4 linked regions of the Homo sapiens genome follow. The protein of the gene in region 4 purifies or fractionates together with the protein of the main gene of each other region. This does not show direct contact. Each region holds a gene or a part of one and is shown on either strand. Other genes may lie near its edges.

The links.
Region 1: the proteins of LIN28A (region 4) and LTV1 purify together in Homo sapiens (affinity purification with mass spectrometry; 3 studies listed by BioGRID and IntAct, with this or other methods). This does not show direct contact.
Region 2: the proteins of LIN28A (region 4) and LARP1 purify together in Homo sapiens (affinity purification with mass spectrometry; 5 studies listed by BioGRID and IntAct, with this or other methods). This does not show direct contact.
Region 3: the proteins of LIN28A (region 4) and IGF2BP3 purify together in Homo sapiens (affinity purification with mass spectrometry; 4 studies listed by BioGRID and IntAct, with this or other methods). This does not show direct contact.

Annotation. Positions count from the first base shown.
Region 1 is NC_000006.12:143,852,673-143,861,267, reverse strand, and holds part of LTV1 (protein LTV1 homolog), read right to left. Parts: intron 3,966-8,595; coding exon 3,824-3,965; exon of another isoform or gene 3,687-3,823; coding exon of another isoform or gene 3,685-3,686; intron 3,517-3,684; coding exon 3,261-3,516; intron 843-3,260; coding exon 715-842; intron 1-714. UniProt on the Homo sapiens protein: Essential for ribosome biogenesis.
Region 2 is NC_000005.10:154,813,402-154,818,725, reverse strand, and holds the end of LARP1 (la-related protein 1), read right to left. Parts: intron 4,840-5,324; coding exon 4,630-4,839; 3' UTR 1,121-4,629; downstream 1-1,120. UniProt on the Homo sapiens protein: RNA-binding protein that regulates the translation of specific target mRNA species downstream of the mTORC1 complex, in function of growth signals and nutrient availability.
Region 3 is NC_000007.14:23,340,781-23,349,375, reverse strand, and holds part of IGF2BP3 (insulin-like growth factor 2 mRNA-binding protein 3), read left to right. Parts: intron 1-1,641; coding exon 1,642-1,776; intron 1,777-3,313; coding exon 3,314-3,436; intron 3,437-5,522; coding exon 5,523-5,658; intron 5,659-7,186; coding exon 7,187-7,312; intron 7,313-8,595. UniProt on the Homo sapiens protein: RNA-binding factor that may recruit target transcripts to cytoplasmic protein-RNA complexes (mRNPs). This transcript 'caging' into mRNPs allows mRNA transport and transient storage.
Region 4 is NC_000001.11:26,404,798-26,414,243, forward strand, and holds the start of LIN28A (protein lin-28 homolog A), read left to right. Parts: upstream 1-6,019; 5' UTR 6,020-6,094; coding exon 6,095-6,125; intron 6,126-6,588; coding exon 6,589-6,785; intron 6,786-9,446. UniProt on the Homo sapiens protein: RNA-binding protein that inhibits processing of pre-let-7 miRNAs and regulates translation of mRNAs that control developmental timing, pluripotency and metabolism.

The sequences.
Region 1 (8,595 bases), on a different chromosome or scaffold from region 4:
TAATATTCATGCTTCTATCAAAACAAAACTTTTAAGCAAAATAAATAAAAGTTAAAAAAAAATTAAAAATTGGCCAGGCACAGTGGCTCAGACCTATAATCCCAGCACTTTGGGAGACCGAGGCAGGCATATTACATGAGGTCAAGAGTTTGAGACCAGCCTGGCCAACATGGTGGAACCCCATCTCTACTAAAAATACAAAAATTAGCTGGGCATGGTGGTGTGCACCTGTAATCACATCTGCTCAGGAGGCTGAGGCAGGAGAATCACCTGAACCTGGGAGGCGGAGGTTGCAGGTGAGCTGAGATCGCACCACTGCATTCCAGCCTGGGCAACAGAGCAAGACTCCGTCTCAAAAAAAAAAAAAAATTTAATAAACGAATACACATTCTACCATGACTCTTCTCCAGTCAAAGATACGGAGAAAGTGGCTCCTCGTATATTCCCATTACGTTCTACTTCAGAACATTTAACACCAAAATGTAGGCAAAACAATGAGCTATACATGACCCAAGTTTATGGAAAATGTACCACTTTCTTTTTTCCGCCCTATCTTTTTTTTTCCCCTTTTCTTTTTTCCTTTTTCATTTTCTCAATATGTATTTTGACTAGGTTAATTTTTTCCTCAATTCAGTTATACTATAGACCTTTCTTTGGAATTTTTTCTTTTTTAAAAAAAAGAACAGCTAAACAAGGAAGGAAAAGTCACTATACTTCTCTGCCTTCTCTTTATAGTAGTCATTCAAAACTTCCTGTAAGCGATTGCTGTCCACTTGAATAGAACCTTCCAATTCTGCATTATCCAGAGCTCCAATTTCATCATCATCATATTGCTCATAAAACTTGAATATAAACAGAGAAAAGATACCATGAAAAGCAAATGTACTCAGTAAGACTACACACTTAAAAATTTTTTTACATTAACTTTATTCTTACACAATAGTTATTCAGGTACTATCACAATTACCATTAAAATATCAGTAGGGATTTAATGCAACAATAGGATGTGGAAGATATTTCTGCTCAGTACTTTAAGACTTACATTTAGCCTAAAAATAGGCTTCCATTTAACATGTAAATGAAAGGCATTATTCCACTCAGCTTGGAGAACAAAATGCTAGGCAGCACAGATTACGTCAGAACATTTTTGAAGATACTTTTTCTTTTTTTTAAGTATCTCACTGTCTCCCAGCCTGGAGTACAGTGGCGTGATCATAGTTCACTGCAGCCTCAAACTCTCAGGCTCAAGCAATCTTCCCACCTCAGCCTCTCAAGCAGCTGGGACCACAGGCACATGCCACCATACCAGGCCATTTTATTTATTTTTTTAAATAGAAACAGGGTCTGCACTGCCCAAGACAGTCTCAAACTCCTAGGCTCAAGTGATCCATCTGCTTCGGCCTCCCACAGTTCTGAGATTATAGGCACGAGACACTACGCCTAGACTAAAGATATTTTCATATTCCTTAGTTATGCAAACTAAAAGATTGTGCAACTGAAAATTCACCTACTAATGTATATATTTGTTCTTGTTTAGACAATAATTACTATATTATGCAAATGGTGTTGACACTGTTAAGCTTTGACAAAGAGTAAATGGGGGGGATATATCTCCTGAAGAGTGAGATTTGTAGCAACAGTTTGTTTCTCCCTCAAGAGAAGAGGGAAAATAGTATTAGGTGAGAAGGTAGCAAGGTAACAGCCTTTATTTTAGATTCACCTGGATGGCAACTATTCCTTCATTCATTTATCATTTATGGAACACTTTAAACTTCTATTACATGCCAAGACACCATTTTAGGCTTTTGGATGTATCCGTGAGCAAAATACAAAGAACTCTCTGCCCTTGGGGAATTCACATTCTAATCTGAGACAAATCTATATATAACATACATAATAAAGCACAACATTAGAGATGATGTTAGGAGGTGTTATGTGCTACAGAACAAACAACAGGATAGGTGGGATTAAAAACCTGTATAAACAGTCTATAGGTTGGGATTATAAACCCTGGAGCTAATCTGTTACAACAGAACCAAATAGAGTATATGAAAATACAAGCTTTCAAAAGTGTCTTATACTCTACTTCCATTCTATTCCTCAGTGTTAGTTATGTCTGAAAACACCAGATGAGAAACGGAAAGAAATGGAATTTTGATGTGCTCAATCAGGCCAATACTTCAGAAATATAGCATCTTATGGATTACTGTTGGAGAAATTCAGAATCAGGATGTCAGAATTCAAGGGGGAAAATAAGAACGTTTGATCAGCCAACTCCTTTTGACCTACACACGTTCTTTCCAGAATCAAAACTAGGGTGACTGGCCTCATAGAATATGTAAAGGGAAAACGACAATAACTAAGGTGCTTTTATGCTCTGTTTTAATAAAGAGATACGCTGTTTTCAACACTCAAAAGTTTTAGCTTTGGGTCCCAATCTCTCTTTTTAAAAAATAAAAAAAGAAAAATAACAAAAAAAAACAAGGCACACAGCAAGGCGCCTAACATCTACTTAGCTCGCGGGCGGATCAGCTGACTTGGCCAGAGGATGTTCCAGTTTCCAGATCAACCTCAACCCGCTCGGCTTCGTCAAGGTCCTTGAGTGGACTGCTTCTATCTTTAGAGTCACCTTGAAGGAAACTATTCCTTCATTCATTTATCATTTATGGAACACTTTAAACTTCTACTACATGCCAAGACACCATTTTAGGCTTTCAGATGTATCGTGAGCAAAATATAAAAAACTCTCTGCCCTTGGGGGATTCACATTCTAATCTGAGACAAATCCATATATGACATACATAATAAAGAAGCACAACATTAGAGATGGTGAGGGTTTAAGGGCCACTTCTGGGGGTTTTAAGGGCCAAATAGAAACTCAAGTGAGTTGTCCTACCACAGTTAGTGAGAATAAAACTATTACAGCTACTTTTGGTTACCCATTCAGGTTGAATGAGGCATCATTTGAGCCACCTCCTGGTGTAAGCGTGTGATGTAAATTGGAAAAGTCACATCCTCCTAACCAATTACTCTTCTTCTGCACAGTTCTATGCTCCCTTTGCAGTCTTTGTGCTCCTGTACTGCACTGATACCCTTCTGCTTTATGCTGGCTACACGAACCTATAGCTGGATAGTTGTAAACTTCCTATGATTGACTTTGTGGTTGGTGAGCACTTCAACCTGGGCTAAAGCTGACAGGTATTAAAAAAAAAAATTTAACATAAGATAGTACTAAAGCATCCCTTATGTGGGGACCTTACCTTCTCAAACCTCTCATCATGTAGGGTCAGCTGTTCATTTCTCCTCATGACTGAGGAAGTCATCGAATACTCCGTGAAGCGACTCTTTGTTTCCTCACTCCAGAACAAGTGATCTGCTATAGCTCTGTGAGTTTTTCCGGGCACAGACATACAGTCTTCATCTGACAATAGGCCTGCAGAGTCATAGTCATCATTGCTATCTCCCTTCTCATCATCCACATCTTCCCACTCGCTGTCATCTTCATTCTCAGATTTCCTAAAGTAAAGGTCATAAATTACCTACCAAAACAACTTAAAAAGTAACAGAACAAAACCACTTTACACAAGTAAAATTGGAAGGTATTTCAGGAAGGGTTCTTGTCTAGGCAGGAAGAGTGAGGGTGTTTGATCAATCTGGTTTGGTAGGAAAAGCAATGAATCTCACATTTTCTGCTCTAAAATACAGAAGTCTCAGATTAAATGCTCTTGAAGGTCTCTTCCAACTGTAACGTTCTATGGTTACCATCCCACTGAAGCAGTAACACTTAGGTCATCATCTCTGCTTTGAAACAAACCACACATACTGTATATCCATTCCCTCTTCCTCTCCTGTTGCCTTATTGGCCTGAAGAATAAAGTCATCCTCAAGCAGATTATCTGGATCATCAAAGTCAAAATCATCATCAAGAGCTGCAACAATGTCAGGATCAAAATCCAGTCGAGGTCCTAGAAGGAAAACAAAAATTAAGCAGTAATTCCCAAGATAGCAACAATTCATTCACTTAACTCACAATATAAGGACCTATGATAGCAAGAGTCTATTAATATATTGAGGATAAAAGAACGATTAAGAACTAAGTTCAGTCTAGTGAAGAATAAAGAATGAACACTCCAAGACAAAAAAAGGAAACAAAATGCTGCCTCAGCCCCAGTCAGGACCTTATAAATAAAACTCCCATCTTCCTGGGACAGAGCACCTGGGGGAAGGGGCGGCTGTGGGCACAGCTTCAGCAGACTCAAACGTTCCTGCCTGCCGGCTCTGAAGAGAGCAGCGGATCTCCCGGCACAGTGCTCAAGCTCTGCTAAGGGACAGACTGCCTCCTCAAGTGGGTCCCTGACCCCTGTGCCTCCTGCCTAGGAGACACCTCCCATCAGGGGTCAATAGACACCTCATAGAGGAGAGCTCTGGTTGGCATCTGGCGGGTACCCCTCTGGGACAAAGCTTCCAGAGGAAGGAACAAGCAGCAATCTTTGCTGTTCTGCAGCCTCTGCTGGTGATACCCAGGCAAACAGGGACTGGACTGGACCTCCAGCAAACTCCAGCAGACCTACAGCAGAGGGGTCTGACTGTTAGAAATAAACCTAACAGAAAGGAATAGCATCAACATCAACAAATAGGACGTCCACACAGAAACCCCATCCAAAGGTCACCAACAACAATGACCAAAGGTAGATAAATCCAAGAAGATGAGGAAAAACCAGCACAAAAAGGCTGAAATTTCCAAAAACCAGAATGCCTCTTCTCTTCAAAGGATCACAACTCCTCGCCGGCAAGGGAACAAAACTGGACGGAGAATGCGTTTGATGAATTGACAGAAGTATGCTTCAGAAGGTGGGTAGTAACAAACTCCTTGGAGCTAAAGGAGCATGTTCTAACCCAACGCAAGGAAGCTAAAAACCTTGAAAAAAGGTTAGAGGAATTGCTAACTAGAATTACCAGTTTAGAGAAGAACATAAATGACCTGATGGAGCTGAAAAACACAGCAAGGGAACTTTGTGAAGCATACACAAGTATCAATAGCCGAATTGATCAAGTGGAAGAAAGGACATCAGCGATTGAAGATCAACTTAATGAAATAAAGCGTGAAGACAAGATTAGAGAAAAAAGAATGAAAAGGAACGAACAAAGCCTCCAACAAATATGGGACTATGTGAAAAGACCAAATCTCTATGTTTGATTGGTGTACCTGAAAGTGATAGGGAGAATGGAACCAAGTTGAAAAACACTCTTCAGGATATTATCCAGGAGAACTTACCCAACCTAGCAAGAGAGGCCAACATTCAAATTCAGGAACCACAAAGATACTCCTCGAGAAGAGCAACCCCAAGACACATAATCGTCAGATTCACGAAGGTTGAAATGAAGAAAAAAATGTTAAGGGCAGCCAGAGAGAAAGGTCGGGTTACCCACAAAGAGAAGCCCATCAGACTAACAGTGGATCTCTCAGCAGAAACCGTACAAGTCAGAAGAAAGTGGGGGCCAATACTCAACATCCTTAAAGTAAAGAATTTTCAACTTAGAATCTCATATCCAGCCAAATTAAGTTTTGTAAGTGAAGGAGAAATAAAATCCTTTCCAGATAAGCAAATGCTGAGAGATTTTGTCACCACCAGGCCTGCCTTACAAGAGCTCCTGAAGGAAGCACTAAATATGGAAAGGAAAAACTGGTACCAGCCACTGCAAAACGTACCAAACAGTAAAGACCATCGATACTAAGAAGAAACTGCATAAACTAATGGGCAAAATAACCAGCTAGCATCATAATGACAGAATCAAATAACACATTACAATATTAACCTTAAATGTAAATGGGATAAAAGCCCCAATTAAAAGACACAGATTGGCAAATTGGATAAAGAGTCAAGACCCATCAGTGTGCTGTATTCAGGAGACCTATCTCATGTGCAAAGACGCACACAGACTCAAAATAAAGGAATGGAGGATATTTACCAAGCAAATGGAAAGCAAAAACAGCAAGTGTTGCAATCCTAGTCTCTGATAAAACAGACTCTAAACCAACAAAGATCAAAAAACACAAAGAAGGGCATTACATAATAGTAAAGGGAACAATGCAACAAGAAGAGCTAACTACCCTAAATATATATGCACCTAATACAGGAGCACCCAGATTCATAAAGCAAGTTCTAAGAGACCTACAAAGAGACTTAGACTCCCACACAATAATAATGGGAGACTTTAACACCCCACTGTCAATATTAGACAGATCAACGAGACAGAAAATTCACAAGGATCTTCAGGACTTGAACTCAGCCCTGGACCAAGCAGACCTAATAGACAGTGACGTAACTCTCCACCCCAAATCAACAGAATATACATTCTTCTCAGCACCACATTGCACTTATCCTAAAATTGACCACATAATTGGAAGTAAAACACTCCTCAGCAAATGCAAAAGAATGGCAATCATAACAAACAGTCTCTCAGACCACACTGCAATCAAATTAGAACTCAGGTTTAAGAAATCCACTCAAAAATGCACAACTACTTGGAAACTGAACAACCTGCTCCTGAATGCCTACGGGGTAAATAACAAAAATAAGGTAGAAATAAATAAGTTCTTCGAAACCAATGAGAAAAAAGACACAACATACCAGAATCTCTGGGACACAGCTAAAGCAGTGTTTAAGGGGAAATTTATAGCACTAAATTCCCACAGGAGAAAGCAGGAAAGATCTAAAATCGACACCCTAACATCACAATTAAAAGAAGTAGAGAAACAAGAGCAAACAAATTCAAAACCTAGAAGACAAGACATAACTAAAACACAGCAGAACTGAAGGAGATAGAGACACGAAAACCCTTCAAAAAAACCAATGAATCCAGGAGCTAGTTTTTTGAAAAGATTAACAAAATAGATAGACTGCTAGCCAGACTAATAAAGAAGAAAAGAGAGAAGAATCAAATAGACACAATAAAAATTGATAAAGGGGATATCACCACCGATCCCACAGAAATACAAATTACCATCAGAGAATACTATAAACACCTCTATGAAAATAAACTAGAAAATCTAGAAGAAATGGATAAATTCCTGGACACATACACCCTCCCAAGGCTAAATCAGGAGGAAGTGGAATCCCTGAATAGACCAATAACATGTTCTGAAATAGAGGCAGCAATAGCCTACCAACCAAAAGAGAAGCCCAGGACCAGACAGATTCACAGCCAAATTCTACCAGAGGTACAGAGAGGAGCTGATACCACTCCTTCTGAAACTATTCCAAACAATAGAAAAAGAGGGACTCCTCTCTAACTCATTTTATGAGGCCAGCATCATCCTGATACCAAAACCTGGCAGAGACACAACAAAAAAAGAAAATTTCAGGCCAATATCCCTGATGAACATCAATGCGAAAATCGTCAATAAAAAACTGGCAAAACAAATCCAGCAGCACATCAAAAAGCTTATTCACCACAATCAAGTTGGCTTCATCCCTGGGATGCAAGGCTGGTTCAACGTAATCCATTACATAAACAGAACCAATGACAAAAACCACATGATTATCTCAATAGATGCAGAAAAGGCCTTTGATAAAATTCAACACCCCTTCATGCTAAAAACTCTCAATAAACTAGGTATTGATGGAACATATCTCAAAATAATAAGAGCTATTTATGACAAACCCTCAGCCAATATCATACTGAATGGGCAAAAGCTGGAAGCATTCCCTTTGAAAACCGGCACAAGACAAGGATGCCCTCTCTCACCAATCCTATTCAACACAGTATTGGAAGTTCTGGCCAGGGCAATCAGGCAAGAGAAAGAAATAAAGCGTATTCCAATAGGAAGAGAGGAAGTCAAATTGTCTCTGTTTGCAGATTAACATCACTGTCTATTTAGAAAACCCCATCATCTCAGCCCAAAATCTCCTTAAGCTGATAAGCAACTTCAGCAAAGTCTCAGGATACAAAATCAATGTGCAAAAATCACAAGCATTCCTATATACCAATAATAGACAAACAGAGAGCCAAATTGTGAGGGAACTCCCATTCACAATTGCTACAAAGAGAATAAAATACCTAGGAATCCAACTTACAAGGGATGTGAAGGACCTCTTCAAGGAGAACTACAAACCACTGCTCAAAGAAATCAGAGGGGACACAAACAAATGGAAAAACATTCCATGCTCATGGATAGGAAGAATCAATATCATAAAAATGGCCATACTGCCCAAAGTAATTTACAAGATAATCCTAAGCAGAAAGAACAAAGCTGGAGGCATCACACTACCTGACTTCAAACTATACTACATGGCTACAGTAATCAAAACAGCATGGTACTGGTACCAAAACAGATATATAGACCAATGGAACAAAACAGAGGCCTCAGAAATAACACCACACATCTACAGCCATCTGATCTTTGACAATCCTAACAAAAACAAGCAATGGGGAAAGGATTCCGTATTTAATAAATGGCATTGGGAAAACTGGCTAGCCATATGCAGAAAACTGAAATTGGACCCCTTCTTTACACCTTATACAAAAATTAACTCAAGATGGATTAAAGACTTCAACGTAAGACCTAAAACCATAAAAACTCTAGAAGAAAAC
Region 2 (5,324 bases), on a different chromosome or scaffold from region 4:
TTAAGGCCTTTAGATTTTGAGGTACTGTAAGGGGCCTAGAAGGACAAAAGGCTTTCATTCCCTCTTCCTTTTGGCAGGCAGGTTATCAGTCCTTGGCAGAAGGGCCCAGCCCTATCCTTTTCTGTATCAAACAAAATCCTTGAGGTTGGTATACAAGTTAAGGCTGAAAAAAGGCCTTAAATTCCCAGTAAAGAATGTGAAAGCAAGCATGTAAAATAAACTGGTCTTCATGAATTCCAGTGGATAATTTTTTTTTGAAGGGAGGTGTCTACTACAAGACTTCTAATACTTCAGACATAGCATTTGGAAGCTCAGGCTGTGAAATTAAGCTGCTGTGAGCATTCCTAACGATAATTTGTGAAAGTAAGTTTCAATTAATTCATCTTTCTGTTTTCAAAGTACCAATCCGTCTGCATCAGCCCTGGACACTATCTCCTAAACTTTCCTTTGGCCTGTGGAGGTCACTGGTGGTACTGAAGTACCTGCCAACCTCAAGAACAGTGAAAAAGCACTCTCTGGAAAAACCATTTACCCAAGCCAGGTATGGGAGACAGTTGTCAGATGAACACGTAAATAAGGCCATGCCCCATTTTTAGTTTTGTAATTTATACGGGGAATGGGGGACTCTTTGTTCCATCCCTCCCCAGCATCACATCTCAGGGTTCGGGGCTGACCAGGATTCCGTAAGTCCACATGGTGCTGGATCATTCCTCCTTCACCCCCCTGTGGAAAAGTCTGTTCATAGAGGGGTTGTGGCAACCCTCCATAAGAAGCCTCATCGTTTTTCTTCTTGGCTGTCTCATAACACAATGCAGGCCACAGCCAGGGGATGGAAAACCTGGAAGCTGACAAGTGCGCTGAAATCCTGGCATTATGCTGGACTGCTGTTTTGTGGCACTGGCTATGACTGTCACGTCTCACTTAAGACACAGGGTGGACATGAACTCAAGGCTTGTAGAAGCCCCTGCCTTAGGCAGACTCCTCGAAGCCCAATGGCAGAACCCCTGCCGAGGTTTCATGTGCACATTGAGTGCAGGGTTCCTCCGGATCTGGGGGAACTCTACCAGAAACCCATCCTTCACACCCAATAGCAGTAACCTAGATGGAAGACCAGCCAGTATTTTGCCTTTTCAAGTGTTTATTTTTATACATTTTTTTGTATTAAAAAGAAAAGCATAATTACCACAAATTACAAAGGACTAAAGCAGGACTAGAATAATGAATGAATCACTTCAGCCTGGAAAGCAGATACTCTCAATAATATTAATGTTATAATACAAGCTCATTCAAGTATTTTACATTTTTTTGTCCTTTTAAATATGATATCCTAGCACATAGTAAAGATAATGTACTACGAGCGTAAGGTGGAACCTTCTCCGCAAAGCCAGATGACAAGTTTTCCTCTCCAGTGAGAAATGGGCTCCAAGTTCTTATCTTCTCTGCCATCAGCATGGCTGAAGGGGGAGAGGGTGGGTGTTAGGGAAAATCCAGGGACCCTTCCACACAGGAGGTACTCTGGGGTTCCATTCAGGAGGGTGCCAGATAATTCAGATCACTCTACCCAGGCTTTTTGGCAAAAAACAACCCTCACCCTCCGTAACTAGTCATCTTCCTTGTCCCTCCTCCTCACTTCCCTTCCAGGGCCTTCTAAGCAGCTTACTTTCTTTTGTAAAATCAATCACCAGGAAAGGGGAAAAAAAAAAAAAAAGAGCTACAATGGAACAAAACAAAAACATTTAACAACTTTGACACAGGGGCTCAGCACCTCTATCTGAGCCCCAGGGGTCCAGGCTGGGGCACGGCTGGATGGCCCTTCTCTACTGGTAGTGCCTTTGCTCCCAAGTGCAGGAAGAGGGCTAAAGAGAAACCTGCCCCTTAACAGGGCTGAGGCACACAGACCTGCTGATGTCTGATGCCCAGAGGTTATGTTGGCATGGACCAACCTTGGAAGGGATAGGATGAACAGAGGGATCTGGGCAGGCTGTTGCTTTATCTCAGGTCTTGGATCCCCATGGGACGATGGTAGGTGTGAAGTGGTTAGCCCTGATGGCCCCTGCCACTTCTGGCATGCTTGTCACAGATACATCGGTCCTAAATTCAAGTGTCTTCAGAAAGTGAAGATGTAAACTACTCTTTGCAACATTAACTCCTAACATGTTACCAAAAACAAAAACAAAAACAAAAACAAAAAAAAAGGAAAGAAAAGAAAAAGCTCCCCTACCAACCACCAGCCGATGTTGAGATGAAGTCCTCACCTCCCTGCCCCAAAGGGGCTTCCTTTCAGGGATGTCTGTGAAGAAGATGGCAGCCCCCTGGCCTGGGAGTAAACTCTAGGTAATAACAGCCTTTCCCCATACCCTAAGGCTTCCTTGTGCCCCAAACCAGCAGAGGAAAAACACTGAGGTTTCTGTGGTGCTGGATACAGTACAGGGCTGCGTGACCTGAAGGAAAGAAAGGAAAGGAGAAGGGGGTCCAGGAATCCAGTGTCCGGTACAATGTGGGGCAGGCACCAGACTGGGCAGGGAAAGGCCTCGGATACCACCATCATAGCAGAGACCAGACGCTCATCCTTGGTTTGAGACATGAAGTCACAGGAACTGAGATGGGCTTCCCACATACCAACCACTGGGAGGGCAAAGGTGGGGAAGGGCACAGGCTAAAAATTAACAAGGTGCCCAAGGTAAAGGGCAAGCCCTTGTCAGCCTGGGATACTGTCTCCTACTCCCAACCTTTGGGCCCAACAGAGGAACCAGTTGAAAAGGAGGGCCAAAGACATTGCAGTAAGTAAGCAACAGGACAATGAACTCCATGTTGCCCAGATCCCACTGAGAGTGAACGTGCAGTCATGCCCATAACCGACACACATCCCAGTCCATGTGGGTCAGTCCTTCATCACCCTCCCTGCCTTCTGACAACAGCAGACTCCAGCCATTCCATTATCATTCACAGCCCAACCCAAGCAGTCAGTGGCTGAAGAAAGAGAATCAGGTATACTCTATGTCCACATATACCTTCCTGCCACAGGGCTTCACCAACTGGCAGGATTCCCCCCAGCCCCCAACTCCTCCTCATCCCTTGTTCCCAGGCGGGTCAATTGGAGAGTGAGCAGAGATAGATGGCTTGCAGAAGGGTATGCAAGATGGGGAGACTCCACCAGACCTTAGGGAGAGAATGGCATCTTTCTCCACCTTTTAAGAGAGACAGAGCCTCCCTGAGGTCTCAAAGATTTTTCAGGGCAACACAAGAAACGTTTCCAAGCCTCAGCTGCAGGTGTTCACCTTTCCACTCTGGGGTGTGAGGAGATGGTAAGCTGAGGACAAGTGTGTTCCAGATGCAGGCCAACTCTGTTCTCCAACAGTTTGAACCAACTTGGCCTTGGGGTTCCAAGGGTAGGATGAAGGGTGTCACGGCAGGACGGGGCCTGGCGTGAGGCAACAGCAAGCAGAGCGAGGACACAACAGTGGCAGCAGTGTACAGACACAGGACGTCAGCTTCAAACGATGCAACAGCAGGGATATCTTGGGCACGGCTCTGATTCGAGCCACTCCCAACTCTCTTGCCTCCAGGATGGAGGCACTGTACATGCAACAGTCCAGAGAAAGATTCTAGCCAGTCCAAGCCCAGGCACATCCAGAGAAGGTGGGAGCTCTTCGGGTTGACTCCACCGAGGAAAACAGGCATTTGGGTATTTCAGATTCCCGCTCCACAATAAGGCAACTTTTAAAAAAATATTATTTCCAAAAACAAAACAAAAATTCCAAGGGGAGGGGAAAGACATTACTTTCTGTGGATTAGGTGGGGGTTTTCTGATTTTTTTTTTTTTTTTGGTCTTTTATGGTCGATTTTGTCTTTTTTCTTCTTTTTTCCCCATTTTTTCAAGGATGGAAAGGTCAGAGAAAAATAAAATAAAACATCTTTCAATAGTCTTTCCTGGTAAAAGCAGCGTCTCTCTGGGCTGGGGAGTAAAGGGTGTGGGGCAAGGGGAGTGGGGAGAGGCTGAAACCTTCCCCCAAACCCCAGTTTTAGATCCTTTGGTTTCCTTCTCCCAGAAGATGGCAGAAGGGCATGGTGGGAACAGCAGGGAGAAAATATGGTGATGACAAACCCCAGATGATCAAGGGGCTGATGCTCCTGGGGCCCAGAGGTACCACCAGAGCCTTCTATGAGACAGTGCTGGGCAATGGGGGGGCCCGCAGGGCCTTCTTGTGGGCTGCATAGTTGGCTTGAGGGGGAGCAGGAGGTTAGGGGTGGGGACCAGGGTTGCAGCCTACTAGCCTCGGGCAGGGCTGCAGAGTGATTTTGGTAATCCAGATGAACTATCAATAATTTAAAACTTGATATATATATATGTATATATATATAAAAATCTCCCCCCTTTCCCTCCCCCCTTAGAAGAAGCTAGGATGTCAAGAGTCATGGAGAGAGGAGGGGGAAGGGGATGTAGAGGCTCCTGCCCAGGGGTACCTCTGATAGCCCAAATGGTGTATACATTGCTACTCAGCACAAAGGCCTGTCCTAGTAACTCCAGGCCTGTCCCTTCATTGTCCCCTTTCCTGGGACTGGGCACCCCCATGGACTCTTACCCACCCTACCCCTTTCCCCCCTCAAGCCCCAGGGCTAAGGAGCTTTTCACTTTCCCAAAGTCTGTGTGTTCGAGTGCTGGCTTGTCCATTTGGCATCTTCCCGGACAGGCTGGCCGGTGGGTGGTGTAGGGGGTTGGCTGATCATGGCAGCAGGCCTGCTGGAAGACTGGGAGGGGCACCGCTTCCTGCCCTCACCGCCGCCACCTCCTGCTACCACTGAGTGTCGCTTGTGGTTGCCCTCCTCACCCATGGGGGGCTGCAACAGAGGAAGGAGTCACAGGTGATCAGAAGCACTATCTACGCCCTCTTCCTTGCCAGGCCCGTCTAGACACTTCCTACTTTCTACCTCCAAATATAGAAAATGAATGGGTTTAACCTTAAAAATAAATTATAAGTTATTAAGCGTTTCTTCATGCCAAGCCTTGTGCTGTTTTATGCACACTCTCTCATGGGGTCAGCATCACCCTTTGATGTGGACCCATGGACATCTGATTTTATAGATGAGGAAACTGAAGCACAAAAAAGTAACTTCCCCAGGGTCTCATAGCTGGTAACCGATAAAGACAAAATTTAGGTCTACCTGCCCCAAAAGGCCAGGCTTTTATCCAACCTCATTTCTGCTTCCCTTCCAAGAAGGGATCTCTTGCTCAGAAATGTGGAATGTGGCATGCAGTATGCTGCGACGTCTCAGCTCAGAAGGCCCAGATCCTTCTGGGGATCACCTCATTCTCTTCAAGGTCC
Region 3 (8,595 bases), on a different chromosome or scaffold from region 4:
TTCATGCCCTTATTTTTAGTTTTATCTTTTACTCTTGAGGTAAATCTTCAGATTTCAACCAAACATTTAGGAAAATGAAAGCCAAATCTTGATTTTATTGGCATGATCAAGTGGTCACTCTCATGGCCATGAGTTATTTAGCCCTTTAAGTGTTTGAATGGCCAAAGGAACTCAACAAATACTTAATTTTCCCAAAAACACATATTTTTGAGTAGCTAATTTTCTTTCTTGTACTTATTAAAAAATGGCAGGCTTATTTTATATTTAATTCAAAACATATAAATATGTAAATTAAAAAGTTACCATTCGTCTCACCTGGGTAGCTGTTGGTAAGTTGGGGATGTATCTCTATAGGATTTGTTGCCTGTATCTACTAACATGTGTGACTTTAAAAAAGAAATCATGTCATGATGTGAATTGCATTATTTCACTTAAGGACTTTTTACTGTGTTGGTACTTGTAATTTTACCACATTTTCAAAAACATCTGTATGATATGAATATACTGTTATTTAACCATCTCTTCCCGCAATTAGATAATTCTAATTTTCTATCTGTTAGAAACGGAACTTTCCCATGCCAGTGGTTCTCAACTACAAATGATCATCTCTCTGCCCCAACCCCCGTAGACATTTGGCAATGTCTGGAGACATTTTTAGCTGTTAGAGTTGAGAGAGAGGCATGCTACTAGCATCTAGTAGGTACAGGCCAGGGAAGTTAGTAAATTTCCTACAATGCACAAGACACCCCATCCACAACAAAGAATCTGGCCCAAAAAGTCAGTAGTGCCAAGGGTAAGAAACATCACTCTTGACCCATGTATGAGACTATATCTGTAGATGTTACCAGGAGTAGATGTTACAAGAAATACAGTTCTTGAGTCACAAGGTGCTCAGCATTTTGCTGACCAGTTTGCTCCTACCAAAAGTGTTGAGTGTGCCTTGTTACCCATCATCTTGCCCATATTTAATTTTTTCTATCTCAATTTTTGCAAGTCTAGAAGAAAATGACATTCTTTTAGCTGGCAGACATATAATTACTAGTGAAATTAAACATCATTTTGAGTTTATTGGCCACTTGCTTTTCTTGAAGTAGAATTGCCATCTGTCCAGGTTCCATTCCTATCACTGTTCGTTGCAGACTTTCCTCTATCAAGGAGGCAAAATGTGGGAAGAACCTTGCAAAGGGGAAGCAGATTGGTGAAATCTGCTCATCCAATGAATGAAGAATGATATACTGTGCAGAATAAGCAGTTCAACTTGGCTTATGGGATTCCAACTCCTCTCTTGGCATGCCCTCCAGTTCCTATTTGTTTTAGAGCAGATTGAATCCAGGCTCTTTGTCATGAGACATTTGTTCTGTGGCATCTGAAAGGAAGCTGTAAGCACAAACAGCTTGGGTAGAATGAAAAGATGTCCCCGCTTGGTTGGATTGAGGAAAGAGAAAGGGGAATGTTCCTAGAATTAAAATTTGCCTCTTAAGGCATTAATGTTGACAGCTTATTGAAAGTTTATGCTCTTGAGGGAAGTGAGTCATCTGCTTTGCCCTGAAGCCCTATGACTTTGCATTTGGTAATTACAGACTCCACTGTGAATACACGCTTACTGCTCTCGTTTTCCTCTCTGCTTGCGCCCACTATCAGAATCGATGTCCACCGTAAAGAAAATGCGGGGGCTGCTGAGAAGTCGATTACTATCCTCTCTACTCCTGAAGGCACCTCTGCGGCTTGTAAGTCTATTCTGGAGATTATGCATAAGGAAGCTCAAGATATAAAATTGTGAGTAAAGAAGATTGTCCTGTGAAAGAGGTTGATATTTGTGCTCTTGTATTTTTGACATCTCTGACACAATTCTTGGGAATTGCCAACAAACAGAGGGAAATGATATCCTGATGAGCTACAGTGGTTGGCACTGTTGATCTGGTTGTGAAGTGTATGTCTTTTAATATTTAAATATTTTCATTCACATTTGAACATAGGCGAGTGGTGATAACGGGGAAGAGAAATGCAGCTATAGAAGAAGGCAACTTGGGGAACCTAGGACCAGGAGGTATCCTGGATTAACCCAAAACAGGAGCCCCAAATCTTGACTCATCCTTTACTCGGAGCTCATTGGAGCTCTGTTCTTGTCCACTGCCTGGCCCCACCTTGGAGCAGCAGGGAGTGTGGAGGTGGGGAAGTGCCTAAGTCTCTTCTAAGGCAAACTGGAGATTTATCTGGGTAATGCAGGCGGGAACTCTATTTCTTCCACAGGAACTTTGAGTGAAGGTTGGGTTCTGTGCCACGTTTAGCGTACAGAACAGCGCTGCACTGAAAGTAGAATCGAGAGTAAGGCACTGGAGTTAGTGTGGGGACCTCATTACCAACCTTAATTTGTAGAGAACTTTAAATATGTTTTAGTAATATTATATGTGGGTGCCATATCATAAGAATGTAATTATTAAAGTAAAAATTTTAAAGAAGAATTATTTTAGTATAGAGAAAAATAGGCCTGGTGTGGCGACTCATGCCTGTAATCCCAGCACTTTGGGAGGCCGAGGCGGGTGGATCATGAGGTCAAGAGATCAAGACCATCCTGGCCAACATGGTGAAACCCCGTCTCTACTGAAAATACAAGAATTAGATGAGCGTGGTGGCATGTGCCTGTAGTCCCAGCCACTTGGGAGGCTGAGGCAGGAGAATGGCTTGAACCCGGGAGGCGGAGGTTGCAGTGAGCCGAGATCGCGCCACTGCACGCCTGCCTGGCGCCAGAGGGAGACTCTGTCTCAAAAAAAAAAAAAGAAAGAAAAAGGAAAAGCCCACCATCTATTAACCACAATGACATTTTAAACAGTTTTATATATATATGACTGGGAAATTCAGAAAGCTACAAAATGAAAAGTGAAAGCTCCCCTTCCTGTTCTTATGCCCTTCCCCCAAAGTGTAACCACTGTTGTTTCTTCTGTTTCCTTCTATAAATTATGCACATATCTCCAGGTGTATATTTGTACTGGATGGTACTGTTTTTTATTTGTACGTTGTGTTCTGGTAGTAGGGGTTTAGGAATATGGTTTTGAGTAAGAGACTCCATCACTGAAGATATTTCCTGAAGTGAATAAAATAAGAACTATTTTAGAAGTTAACTTCTGTATTTTTTCTCCCCTTCTATTCATGCATTGCTAGAATGCTGGCCAATTGTCAGCAAGTTTTAAGCTGTACCTAACACAGTGCTTCCCAGATGGTAGGTAGGAAGTAAATGTTTAATGAGTGAATATTGTCTTTTTACCCACGAATAGGTTTACTTATTCTAATTTTATGGCCACTTTTCTATTTACAGCACAGAAGAGATCCCCTTGAAGATTTTAGCTCATAATAACTTTGTTGGACGTCTTATTGGTAAAGAAGGAAGAAATCTTAAAAAAATTGAGCAAGACACAGACACTAAAATCACGATATCTCCGTGAGTGCTCCTTTGCTTTTGAATAAGAAAACTTTCCAACACTGTAAGCTGCATGTTGTGTATTGGGCTTAGCTTCCCACTTTACAGCTGCTTCAGCTAGCCTGTGCTGCCGTACTTACACATGGTTTCTCAAATACAGCTTGCTGCCTGTTAGGTTTCTGACCCGTATTGAAAGCATTATCTGCTTCTGGCAGGAGGAACCAAATGCTTTACATTCATGTTTTCTAAAGCAGTCTTAACTATGTTTTATGACATTTATTCCCAAAGTTGGAATATATAACCCAGTTTATTATCCATTGTCGTGTAACGCATTATCCCAACATTTGACAGCTTAACACAATGTGAACATTAATTGCTCAGCTAGTTTTTGTGGGTTAGGAATGCAGGAGCAGCTTAGCTGGGTGGTTCTGGCTTGGGGTCTCACAATGCTGCTGACAAGTTGATGCTGGCTGTTGGCAGAAGGCCTCAGTTCCTCCCACATGGGCTTCTCCACAGAGCTGCTTGAGTGTTCTCAAGACATGGCAGCTGTCAAGATGGAAACTGCAATGTCTTTTATGACATAGCCTCAGAAGTTATACTCTATCATTTTTCTAATGTTGTTTACACAAGTCAGCCCTATTTGGTATGTATGTGTGGGACTACAGATAACTGGGTGACAGGAATCACCTTGGAGGCAGGCTACCACACTTAGAATCTGTGGATGCTCTGAAATTACGTGGAAAGGTTTTTCTGAGGGTGGCCATTCTTAGTTTCACTCAGAGTACTCAAAAAGGTGGGAAAAGATTGATGAACTGAGGAAGAGTGGTAGGGGAAAGACTGCACGGTGTTTGTGTACAAGGAGTTTTCAAAGGAGGTAGTAAGGAAGCAGGAAACTTCTGTTTGGTTGTAAAGAAAGGGGGAAAAAAACCCCACAAAGTGGTAAATTCAATAAGTAATACTACTTTGTCTTAAATTTACCCCCAGAAAGGGGAGAGTTTTAAAAGAAAAAAATCTCAAAAGTTATTCTAGAAGCAGCTATTTTTAAAACTGTAATACAAAATGCTTGGCAGGGCCAGGTTGAGACTGAATTAGAATTATAGACTTCTTTTTAAAGTAGTCTAAGAGAAATAGTCTTCATTATACAAATGTTTACATTTTTAACAAGTTTGAGGAAAATGTTAAGGAATAACTTCCCATTCATCTGGCTCAAGGTTAGCCTGTGACATTATACTAGTAGTGAAAATGAGAACTTCAGGAAGATGAAGGAGATTTGTACCAATAATCCATATCCTCTCAATTTATGTACTTAGTTCTGTTTTCCATGGCACATGTCTCCCATTGCTTTTCCTCTCAAGGCTGTTGACCAGCATAGGCTTAGGTGTTTTCAGGTATGATATTCAGTGGCTTTTGAAGGTTCAGCAGGACCTAGGTCCCGCAGGGAGTTTCTGAATATTTCTGCCACTATCTAACGTTTTTGTTATCTAAATGGCATCGGTGAACCATTTTAAATTTTAGTCAAGATGGATTGATATTCCTCCAGCCTACTTCAATCTAAATTCTAAAGAAACTGGTAAAAACTAAGTTTAGACACAGGAATTCTGGCTTGTGTTTTTGGAATATTTCCATGCTTTCTCCTTGCTTGGTGACCCAGAAAATGCAATTGCACGAGAATGCCAATTATGCCTAGAATTGGTTAATACAGACTAGGAACATACTTATGAAAGGTTATGTACTTAGGGTATTTGGTTTCCTCAAAAACTATACATCTTTCCAGTCATTTTTTAATTCACTGTTCAATTGTGAAAATGGTTCAACTTTAAGCGGTTGAGAAGTAAGCTTTATTTAAAATATGGACTTGATTGAACTATATGTATCCAGTAATCGTTAGTTGAGAAAATGGGAGGGCAAATATTTTCTTCTCTCTTGCAGCTTTACAGTTTCGGATTTACGTCTTTTGGGGCTTACTCATTTCCCATCATGTTTTACCACCCACTTTTACATATTACCAGGCTCCACAGTTTGTTTTTAATTGCCGTCTGTGGCTGAATTATTAGCTGTCTTCCTCCAATTTTCATTCTTTTTCTTTCCCTTCTTTTTCATTCTGCAGATTGCAGGAATTGACGCTGTATAATCCAGAACGCACTATTACAGTTAAAGGCAATGTTGAGACATGTGCCAAAGCTGAGGAGGAGATCATGAAGAAAATCAGGGAGTCTTATGAAAATGATATTGCTTCTATGAATGTTAGTTTTGTTATGAAGGGCATGTCTTTATTTTAACAAATAGTTAAAACAATGTTTTTAACTGCATTAATATTGAATTCTTTTGTGGCATTATCACTAGAAGTAGTTCTAGTTGATTTTTAGCACCTCAGCAAGTACCCTGGGATAGTAGGGAAGATACTGGCTTTGACATTAAGCTTTGCTGTCTCTGTGACTTTAGCAAATTATTCAGTCTTTGAGCCTTAGCTTCCTTCTGTCTGAAGTAAGGCTAGTGTCTACCTACAAAGGTTAATATAGTACCTCTCTTACAATGTTAATTTGAGAGAGTTTAATATAGAAGAAATGTTACATGAACTGGATTTGAATCACAGCTGAACCATTTATGAGCTGCAGCTCTCTTCTCTTATATGATTTACTCAGTCTCTCTGAGGCTCAGTTTACTCATCTGTAAAATGGGACTACTGCCTACCTTGCATTCTTATTAGGATTACAATAGATATAATGCATATAAAAGTTAATGTTAAGATTACAGGTTTAAAACTTGGTTAGCCATATAAACCTTGGAGATACAAGAATTTCAATTGATAAAACAATCTGTGTAGTGCATCTGAGGCTATTAAAGCAAATTGCTGACATTCCTTAATCAGTGAAATGGTGCTGAAAATGGAATACTTCAAAAGCCTGTCTTAAATTTTAAAGTAAATGACTTTAAAAAATAATTTTTTTTCAATTGGGCCAGTCATCTGAAACACAAAACCTGAGACGAGGGAAATGTGCAAATACTGCGTTTGTGAGAAGAGCCTAGAATGCTAGCCATTTTACACCCCACGTGACTTCTTGCCAACCTGCTTCAATTCTCACTGCTTGGCTCCAAATGTTCTGGAATCAACTGGGATTAAATCTAACCCCCTTAGGCCTTTTAAAAAGATTTTCAAGTACACTCAAATCTCCCTTCCACCGTCTACATTACGTCCTCAACCCTTATAAAATTAAACAAATTAAAATACCCTTTCTGGCTCCTATTTCCATTCCAGTGATATGTTTACTTGCAGTAGTTACATGGGGATGGGTCCTGATTTCCAGAGGGCTCAACTTTGAGGCCTCTAGACCCATGGTTGCTAAGTTTTACCCAGCAAGTAAAGATCTCTTAATAGCTGGTTTGCTTTTCAATGAACCAATCTTACTTGATTACCTCTTCAACTCTGATACATTGCTTTTTGTCTATATTTAGTTTGCCCACAGCATGCAGAATACGGTTTTGTCTAAGTCCTGTGGGCTAGTCATAAGGGAAAGGAAAGCTTCCCTTGAGATATCTTAATGCAGCTGTGGACCAAGGAGGGGGCAAACCAGCACACAGATTTTAAAATACCAAGGGATATAAACAGATGTAAACGATGTACTCAAGTAGAGTCCCATGGAACATCTGCTTTGAGTTATACAATCATTTCTTTATTAGACAAGAGATCAGTTTGAATACTGTCACTTAAAAATGCTCACTTTCCCTTGATTCTTTTAATTGTCAAATTAAGGGGCCTTTTTACTGTTGCAGCTTCAAGCACATTTAATTCCTGGATTAAATCTGAACGCCTTGGGTCTGTTCCCACCCACTTCAGGGATGCCACCTCCCACCTCAGGGCCCCCTTCAGCCATGACTCCTCCCTACCCGCAGTTTGAGGTAAGATAACTGGCCTTGGCTTTCTTTGTGATTGGGCAAAATCTTAATGTAAACCTAGTCCCCGCGTGATCATCTGTTTAGATGCCAACATATGCTCTCCAGTTCTTGCTAATGGAGCCTTCTTATTTGGCCCTTTGTGGAGTAGACATGGGATTATTTTGCAGTTTTTGGATAGCGGGGTTGTCAACATGTGTTTTCAAATATCACAACAAAAGTTTGGGACTTTGAGGTGGCAGGGGAAGAAACTTAGTAATTGTTTTTCTTATTTAAAAAAATTTTTTTTCTTTTTTCTTTTTTCTTTTTTTTTTATTCTAAGTTCTCGGATACATGTGCAGAATGTGCAGGTTTGTTACATAGGTATACATGTGCCATGGTGGTTATTTAAAAGTTTTTGGAGACACAGTCCCACTCTTTCGCCCAGGCTGGAATGCAGTGGCACAATCTTGACTCACTGCAACCTTCACCTCCCGGGTTCAAATGATTCTCATGCCTCAGCCTCCTGAGTAACTGGGATTACAGGTGTGTGCCACACCACACCCGGCTACTTTTTTTGTATTTTTAGTAGAGACAGGGTTTCGCCATGTTGTTCAGGCTGATCTCAAACTCCTGGCCTCCAGTGGTCTGCCTGCCTCGGCCTCTCAAAGTGCTGGGGTTATAGGCGTGAGCTATTACCTGGCCAGTAATTATTAAATACTAAAGGAAAAGATTTTTTAAAGGCTTCTTTCATCTTTGTCACCTGAAGTCAATGGCTTTGAAAGGTCAGGAGTGACTCTGTGTGTTTTCCATGTTGAGTGTACTTTTTTAAACCAAAGAGATAAGATAGTTTTGTGCACAATTATATTGTGTGTGTGCGTGCATACATTAAGCAGATGTTTATTTTGTAAAGAGGTAGGTTATATAAGAAATAAATCTTAGGCCAAGTGCCATGGCTCACACCTGTAATCCCAGCACTTTGGGAGGCCGAGGCGGGAGGATCACCCGAGGTCAGGAGTTCAAGACCAGCCTGGCCAACATGGTGAAACCCCATCTCTACTAAAAATACAAAAAATTAGCCGGAGTGGTGGCAGGTGCCTGTAATCCCAGCTACTTGGGAGGCTGAGGCAGGAGAATCGCTTGAACCCAGGAGGCAGAGGTGGTAGTGAGCTGAGATTGCGCCATTGCACTCCAGCCTGGGCGACAGAGCGAAACTCTGTCTGGGAAAAAAAAAAAAAAAAGAAAAAGAAAAAGAAAGAAATATTTTATACTTGCTTTTTAAGAATAGCAGTTTCCTTGAGGTCAGAAAT
Region 4 (9,446 bases):
TTATTGTCTGTCTCTCTCTTCTAGAATGTTAGTACTATGAGTCAGAAATTTCATCTGTATTGTTCACTAATGTATTTACTGTGCTTCAGATGGTGCTGCCTGATACACAATATTTGTTTAATAAATACTTGTTAGGTATGTGAGTGAATGAATAGATGAATAAATAGAAATAGATGCTGTATTGCCTTCATGGTGAATTACAGAGTATACTGCCATGCTTTGAAAAGCTCTGTCCCAGCCGGGCGCGGTGGCTCATACCTGTAATCCCAGCACTTTGGGAGGCTGAGGCGGGTGGATCACGAGGTCAGGAGATTGAGACCATCCTGGCTAACACGATGAAACCCCATCTCTACTAAAAATAAAAAAATTAGCCCGGCGTGGTGGTGGGCGCCTATAGTCCCAGCTACTCGTGAGGCTGAGGCAGGAGAATGGCGTGAACCCGGGAGGTGGAGGTGGCAGTGAGCCGAGATAGCGCCACTGCACTCCAGCCTGGGCGACAAAGTGAGACTCCATCTCAAAAAAAAAAAAAAGAAAGAAAGAAAACCTCTGCATAGGAAACATAGTTAACATACCTTTCCAAATGATGTCACTCTATAAATGTTTTGAAACTGATAATACGTATTATTCATCCCATGGAATTACTATCTGGAGGGACACACTATGGGAAATATTTCTCTCAAATGCATACCATCATTCATGTTAGAAGATGGTCAGGATATTACACTCCGAACACCACTCTCGACTGTACCACAGAATTCTCAGAGTACTTCAGAAATGGGAGCTGAGTGTGGATGATTACCCAGAAGAGGACTTGCTTTGGCTCTGGCCAGCTCTTTGACTTAGAAAGCCAAGGAGCTATAGGAAGAATGATCAGTAGAAATGACAGGCTAGGCCAGGTGTGGTGGCTCATGCCTGTAATCCAAGCACTTTGGGAGGCCGGGGCGGGCGGGTCATCTGAGGTGAAGCATTCAAAACCAGCTGGCAAACATGGTGAAATGCTGTCTCTACTTAAAAAAAAAAAAAAAAAAAATTAGCCAGGGATGGTGGTAGGCACCTGTAATCCCAGCTACTTGGTAGTCTGAGGAAGGAGAATTGCTTGAACCCAGGAGGCAGAGGTTGCAGTGAGCCGAGATCATGCCATTGCACTCCGACCTGGGCAACTAGAGTGAGACTCTGTCTTAAAAAAAAAAAAAAAAAAAAAAAAAAAAAAAAAGGACAGGCTAGAGCTGTGGCCCATGGAAAAGAAATCACAAACTTGGGTCCTATATTTATCAACTAGGTGGAATATATAGTCTCCTTCCAGTCTTTTTGTCTGCCTGTATATTTTTTCACTATTGGTAAAATGGTGATGGCACTAGTCATGATAACAACATACTAGAACTGTGGGAATAATATGGGCTTTGCAGTCAAAGATGTGTGAGTTCAAATCTGCCTCTGCCATGTATTAGTTGAGCAACATTAGGCAAGCTATTAATATACTGATTCGATTAAGCTTTAGTTTCCTCTCCTGTAAAGTAAAAATTTAATACTTATTCTTCAGCATTATTGAGAGTCTTGAATGAGATTTTAAAAAGGTGCCTGTATTCCTGATAAATGCTGGCTGTCGTTATTATTATCTAGCAGAATGCTCATTCCACAGAGGCAGGAATTTTTGTTTGTATTGCACTTTGATGTATTCTCAACAATTAGAACAATGTCTGCCACGGAAGAAGTGCTCAGCAAATATTTGTCAATTATTGGATGGATTGTTATTATTATTAAGACCTCTTGCAGCTCTTTTATGAAGCTATAAACCTGCGCAAAAGGAACTTAGCAAAATGCCTTAAGGAAAGGGATGTTCTTTGTGTTGATACCGGACACCCTTGTCTTCTCTAAAGAGTACATTTACCCTCCTTTTACCTAGATATTATTACTCTCAGAAACCAGTACACAAGAAACCTACAATGCTTAGCTATTTCAGTCTTGTCTTCCTAAGTAGACTATAACTTCTTGGAAGGCAGGGAATATTTTTTCTTTCCTTTTTTACTTTTGTATATCCTCATGCTACTTAGTGTGTACTACTTTTTACATGTCAGCTGGGCACGGTGGCTCACACCTGTAATCCCAGCACTTTGGGAGGCCGAGGTGGGTGGATCACGAGGTCAGAAGTTCGAGACCAGCCTGGCCAATATGGTGAAACCTTGTCTCTACTAAAAATACAAAAATTAGCCGGGCATGGTGGCAGGCACCTGTAATCCCAGATACTTGGGAGGCTGAGGCAGGAGAATGGCTTGAACCTGGGAGGCAGAGGTTGCAGTGAGCTGAGATCATGCCATTGCACACTAGCCCGGGTGACAGAGTAAGACTCCGTCTCAAAAAAAAAAAAAAAAAAAAGAAGAAGAAGAAGAAGAAGAACTAACTACATGACAGGAACTGTTTCAAAAGCTTTGCCTACATGATCTAACTTCATCCTCACAATATCTCTGAGGCCTCAGTATTCTCATTATTCCTATAGGACAGAGGAAGAAACAGAGGAATATAGAGGTTAAGGAAGAGCTGTAAATAGTAGAGCTGACATTCGAACATGGGTAATCTGACTCTAATGCCTTGTACTCCTTTAAAAAGTGGTAATAATTAAGAAAATAAGGCCGGGAGTGGTGACTCACGCCTGTAATCCCAACACTTTGGGAGGCCGAGGTGGGCGGATCACCTGAGGTCAGGAGTTCGATATCAGCCTGGCTAACATGGTAAAACCCTGTCTCTACTAAAAATACAAAAATTAGCCAGGCATGGTGGTGGGCACCTGTAATCCCAGCTACTCAGGAGGCTGAGACAGGAGAATCACTTGAACCCAGGAGGCAGAGGTTGCAGCGAGCCAAGATCGCACCACTGCACTCCAGCCTGGGCAGTAGAGTGAGAATCTATCTCAAAAAAAAAAAAAAAAAAAAAAAAAGAAAAGAAAAGAAAAAGAAAAGAAAATTAAAAACAGAGATTAGTTTTTCTTCTACTTTGGTCTTCTTTGACTCAAAAAATATTATCTCTTCTTTCCTAACCCTTTACAGCCATATTATGGGAAGTAGGTTTCCCATTTTTCTGAAGAGGAGTTTGAGATACCTGCATCTCTCTCACAAAATCATATACTACTGGGAATCTCTCTCTCTCTCTCTTTGAGACAAGGCCTGGGTGAGTCTGTCACCCACGCTGGAGTGCAATGGCACTATCTCCTCACTGCAACCTCGGCCTCCTGGGCTCAAGTGATCCTCCCACCTCAGCCTCTCAAGTAGCTGGCATGCGCCACCACATCCGGTTAATTTTTGTATTTTTTTTAGAGATGGGGTTTCGTCATGTTGCCCAGGCTGGTCTCAAACTCCTGTCCTCAAGCAATCCTCCCACCTTGACCCCCCAAAATGCTGGGATTACAGGCGTGAGCCACCACGCCCGGTCGAAAGTGCCATTTCTTTAGCATTCAAAAAAAGTATCTTAGGCCGGGTGCGGTGACTCACACCTATAATCCCAGCACTTTGGGAGGCCCAGGCGGGCGGATCACTTGAGGTCAGGAGTTCAAGACCAGCCTGGCCAACATGGTAAACCCCGTCTCTATAAAAATACAAAAATTGGACGGGCGTGGTAGCATGTGCCTGTAATCCCAGCTACTCGGGAGGCTGAGGCACGAGAATTGCTTGAACCCAGGAGGCAGACGTTGCAGTGAGCAGATATCGTGCCACTGCACTCCAGCCTGGGTAACACAGCAAGACTCCGTCCCCCAAAAAAAGTGTCTTCATTCATCTGAAATGTGTCAGTGTTACCACAGCGGGAACCGGCATTGAGGAAAATCAGGTTTTCTGGGAAAGACTTGGAGGTGGGAACTCAAGAAGTTATTCTCAAAACTGTGAGCTGGGAATCAAGACAGCGTGACTCAATTCAGCACCGTGGACAGAGCTGCTGGAGCCCTCAGGACCCTGGACAGAGAAGCAGGCCGCGCATTCCCGGGGAACCGAATTCGCATCACTTGAGAACCCACCTAGAGAAGCCAGAGCGTTCAACTCCCCTTTCCCTCCCTTTTCTTCAGCCAGACCTCAGCCACTTGCTCCTGAGTCTTAGGAACAGAGGTACACGGAGCGAATATATTTTAAGGGCGCCACTAACAGCGGGAGATAAGACTTTTGGGAGAGGAGAATTATGTAAATAAAAATGGCTTTGGCTGATGTACTAGGAGAACTCTTGATAATTCTAAATTAGAGTCCTCAGATGGGAGTGGGGCACTGCTAATAATATTTGTTAACGATATGTATTTTTTAGGCGGAGCAGCAAAGGGCCACTCTTGTCCTTTTTACCCCACGAAGTCCCACCTCCCATTCCTTACGCTCAAGTTTTCATTTCTTGGAGAGCACCCCGTACGAGAGAAAGGGAAATAACTTCTGCAGTCTCTTGCTTTCCTCCCCATCTTCCCCTTCCCTACCCCCACTCATCCGGTCTCTCTGAAATACACATGTGCCCACATCCGCACGTGCACACACACACACACACAAACACACACACAGAGCCACAGCGTGAGAATTCCAAAAGGTTCTGCACACTCGGTGGAGAAGATTGAATTCAGAGCAAGCGGATGCCCCCGAAAGCAGGCTCTGTCCCTTTAAATGGGTTGTAGTGGTGGGGGAGGGGAACTGGCCGGAGCTGGCATTGTCCAGTTTGAACTGAACACCGGAAGTGAAGGGGCAGGGCCAGGGCCGTGCACTGAGCCCCGGGCCATTGTCCATCTCCGACCAGGGCAGTAGCCACCCCCACTAGCCAGCCGTCTTTATCTCCTAGAAGGGGAGGTTACCTCTTCAAATGAGGAGGCCCCCCAGTCCTGTTCCTCCACCAGCCCCACTACGGAATGGGAGCGCATTTTAGGGTGGTTACTCTGAAACAAGGAGGGCCTAGGAATCTAAGAGTGTGAAGAGTAGAGAGGAAGTACCTCTACCCACCAGCCCACCCAGTCCCTCTCTCAGCAGTGGATGGGGATGGGGTGGGGGTAGGACGAGAAGGCAGCTGGTGGAGAAACAGCTTCAAGACTCTTTGGGTTCCTCCTGCTCTCCAGGGAGCTTACCTGGGGCTAACTTTAGACACACAGGTTTGGAGGGAGGAAAGAAGGAAGAATTCTTTACAACGAATCAATTAAGAGCACTTTCTCTTTTCTAACTGGGGGAGGCCCAGAAAAACTCTGAGTCAGAAACTCTGGGAGGCAGACATTCAGATGTAGTCAGAGGCAGACAGACTTTGGAAGGCAGCGCTTTGGTCAGGACAGATCAGCCCTGTGTGTCCCCAGCCTCTCCCCTGCTCCCCCATCCCGGGCTTCCCAGTGTCCAGAACTCCAGGTCTATCTAAGCACACGGGGGTGGGGGGTGAGAGCGGGTCAGCTCCAAGCAGCCGGGTCAGCTCAGAGGCCTGAGGGGGAAGAGAGGGGGAGGGGAGCTCAAGGGCTGGGGGAGGGGGAGGGCCCATTCATTTCTCCCTTGACAGGTGGTTTGTGTTTCTGATTGGCCAGCGCCGCCAGGCTCACACCTCCCTCCCCCAACTCTCTGGAATGTATAATTATCTGCCCGGGGGGTGGGGGTGGTGTGTGTGTGTGTGTGTGTGTGTGTGTGTGTGTGTGTGCAGTCACGTGGTTTTAAAACTACCCCCCCCACCAGGTCCCCCACCTGTATCTGCTTTGGGGACCCCTACTGAGTCCAAAGTGCAGGATCTCAAATTCCGGGGTACTCAAGTCTTCTAGGGCAGACAGACCCATCTCCAGTTGTGCGTGTGGGGAGGGGGTGTCAAACCTCAAGGTTCTGAGAAGGGACACCCCAGAGGTGTCAGAGACCGGAGTTGTGGGGGAGGGCCGGAGCTGGAGCCGGAGGGAAAGGGAGGGGAAAGGAGAGGGAGGGGAGGGGAGGGGGCTGCCCGCGGGGGGTTGGGTCATTGTCTTTTAGAATTTGGGAGCCTTTGAAAAGCCGTGGGCCCTCCCACCGCTATTGTGCGGGGGAAGATGTAGCAGCTTCTTCTCCGAACCAACCCTTTGCCTTCGGACTTCTCCGGGGCCAGCAGCCGCCCGACCAGGGGCCCGGGGCCACGGGCTCAGCCGACGACCATGGGCTCCGTGTCCAACCAGCAGTTTGCAGGTTCGAGCTCGGGACTTAGCGGGGACACTTTAGGATTCAGGGGCGGCCAGGAGCCACGTAGAAGGGAGGTGGGGAACTGAGTCCTAGGCTGCCCAAAGGACCCCAAGACGGTGCGGCCTTCTGCTTCATAGGGCCGTCTCTGGGGCCAGGAACCTTGGTGTCCCAGTGGCGTGCGCGCCAGACTACGTGGGTGGATGGAGAGGAGAGGCTTGTCCCGCCGTGAGTCTCTGGGAAACGCGTTGTGGGAAGAGGAGCAAAACTTTCGGGGCACTACTGTCCCGGTGTACGCTAGGGGAACGCGGGAGGCGACCGGGATAGGTTTCTTCTCTTCTGTTGCTTGGTAGCTGCCCCCTCCTGGCTGTCCACTTGTGGGGCTGGATACTCGGGTCTCCCTGCCTGGGGCCCGAGACGGCCCTCCGATTCCGTGCCCCCCAGCTAAGTGCCCGGCCCTCCCTCTCTCCAGGTGGCTGCGCCAAGGCGGCAGAAGAGGCGCCCGAGGAGGCGCCGGAGGACGCGGCCCGGGCGGCGGACGAGCCTCAGCTGCTGCACGGTGCGGGCATCTGTAAGTGGTTCAACGTGCGCATGGGGTTCGGCTTCCTGTCCATGACCGCCCGCGCCGGGGTCGCGCTCGACCCCCCAGTGGATGTCTTTGTGCACCAGGTGAGACTGATTCCGGTAACTTTGCCCAGGGAAGGGCGTCTAGGCGCCCATATCCACGGGTGGGCTCCGGGCTCGCAGTTGAATTGAGGGCCATCGGGAGCCCTCATTATGCATCCCTGTCTTTGCTTCGGCACCCCAATTCTGAGTCCCTGTTAACTATCTCGTGGGGGAGTAGTGGGAGGCAGCACCAATTATCAGCACCCCCGCCCCCTTCCGGGAACCCCTCCGGCTTACCACGTGTCTATTACCTCTTTCCCCTGGGAAGGGGCAGGGGGCAGGGAGGTGACCCCATGTGGCAGAAACTAAGGTTGTATTGTGCTTGCCGGTGGGGGGAGGGCGAGCAGGCCGGCCAGGGAAGCACATGCCGGGCCTAAGCCGGGAGCCCAGCTCCTCCAACGTCTGAATGGAGCTCAGAAGGCGGGAGAGAGTGAGGGCAACTGGCTACTGGACCCAAGGGGCGTAAAGCCGAGAAGTCAGCCTCATCCCCTTTTTAATGCAGACCTCACCTGGCTGGTCACTAAAAACTGGGTTTGGCAGATCCCTGAAGGATCCCTGTGGGGGCTTGAAAGCTCAGGACTGGGGTCTTTGCTGTCCAGTTCCCGTGAGGAAGGAAAACCCAAAGAGCCCAGGCCTTCCTTACATTCCTGGGCCAGGCTGGGAGGGAAGTCGGTAGGTCGCAACCCCAAGTTCTCAGTTAAAGCAGGGCAGCACAGTAGGGGGTGAAATTCAGTGTCGCAGGGCAGGGGGTGAAGGGAGGCTGGCCTCTGGTCCTATTCTCCGCTTGGCATTTATGGCCCCAGACAGCCATTGATTGCTGTCTTAACATTCCTGGCCTCAAACAAGGAGCCAGAGACTTCAGGTCTCCCTCCTCCCAGGCTTCCCCTTCCTGAATATCCTAGAGGCATTCCGGTGGTCCTGGGCCACCAGCTACCCATAAAGACCATGGAAAGGAAGTTGCTTGCTGCCTATGGCCCTTCCATCTTTGGAGGTTTGGGACTGGATCTGGAAAGAAGAAATTGCTAATCCCAGATCGTGTAGGTTGACACCCAGGCCGGGCAGGGAGGGGTTACTTAAGGGAGGTTGGCTTTAGGAGGTGTGGGGGAGGGGAAAGGAGGATGTGGGGATTAAGGGTTGGAGCCTGAAGGGATGGCATTCTTTGGGGGAGGGGTAGAGAAGGGAGATGCTGGATGGACTAGTTGGAGGCAGCAGGGACGTCTTTGAGCACAGCCTTCAGTGAGGAACAAACAAGGGAAATAGACGCAGGGAGATGGGGAGCCACCACTTACTGTTGGGGCCATGGGGTCAGTGGGCTACTTGAACATCTGCCAAGAGGACCTGCAGCAGGATACTGAGCTGCCCCTTTGCAGCACCCTTATTCCCCCAACCCCCCATTAGACAGCTAGTTTCCCACTAGTGGCTTTTCTCCCTTCTCTGTCTCATTTACATATGTGAATGATAACCCACAGGAAGTAATTGTGGGAGAAAGAAGGGAATTGGCCTTTTTAGATCTATTAAATCACTTTATTACAGGAACCAGCTTTGAATGGCCCTCCTCAGCAGGGTAGCAAGCCTCCCCCACTCTCCCATTTATCTGATCACAAAGAGATTAAAATCTTTCCTGGTCTGGGGACTGGACAGCTCCCCCAACTTTGGGAGGCTGGAATAAAAGAGTCAGACCCAACGTTTTCTCATCTCCCATCCAAAGGCTGCCAGATAGGGAGGGGCTGAGGGGAATGTATCCCCTCATCTTCTGGGTTCCTTGGTGATATACATACCCCAAGGAAGGTGTTTTCTTGTTTTGTTTGTTTGTTTGTTTGAGCAAATGGGGACTTGGGCCTCAGCAGGCTTCACCTTAGGATCTAGAGCAATTGGGAAACTATTGGATGGCATAGAGCAGGCATTGAGTCTACACCATGCTGGGTCAGATGTGCTGGCTTGGAAATACTCTGGATTTTAGGCTCTTGGAACATCCAGGAACCCATAGTTGAGTAAGTTGTCAATAGGGAGCTGAGCTGGAAGAGAATTAAGAATTTGTCTCTCTAATCCCCAGCTCTTCCCATTCTACTCACAAAGCACAATGATGGGTGGAAATTCCCTGAGCCTTTACCTGGTAGCTCTGATAATGGTAGCATGCCAGAAAGGCTTGGGTCAGGGGTCCTCCAACCCCACCTTAACCGTAAGTTAGATTAGTGATTCCAGTCTTTGCACTTGTTTTTTTGTTTGTTTGTTTGTTTGTTTGTTGCTTTTTTTTTTTTTTTTTTTGAGATGGTGTTTGGCTCTTGTTGGCCAGGCTGGAGTGCAATGGCATGATCTCCACTCACCGCAACCTCCGCCTCCCAGGTTCAAGCGATTCTCCTGCCTCAGCTTCCTGAGTAGCTGGGATTACAGGCATGTGCCACCACGCTCGGCTAATTTTTTGTATTTTTAGTAAAGACGGGGTTTCTGCACGTTGGTCAGGCTGGTCTTGAACTCCTGACCTCAGATGATCCGCCCGCCTTGGCCTCCCAAAGTGCTGGGATTACAGGCATGAGCCACCACTCTTCTGCATTTGTGAAATTAGAAATGACTCTCTGGAAATCTTATGGTAAAGGAATTTAGTAAACACAGGATAAATTGTTTACTGGGGGAGGAGGAAAGTGTTCCCGAAGCAGAGGGTAAGAA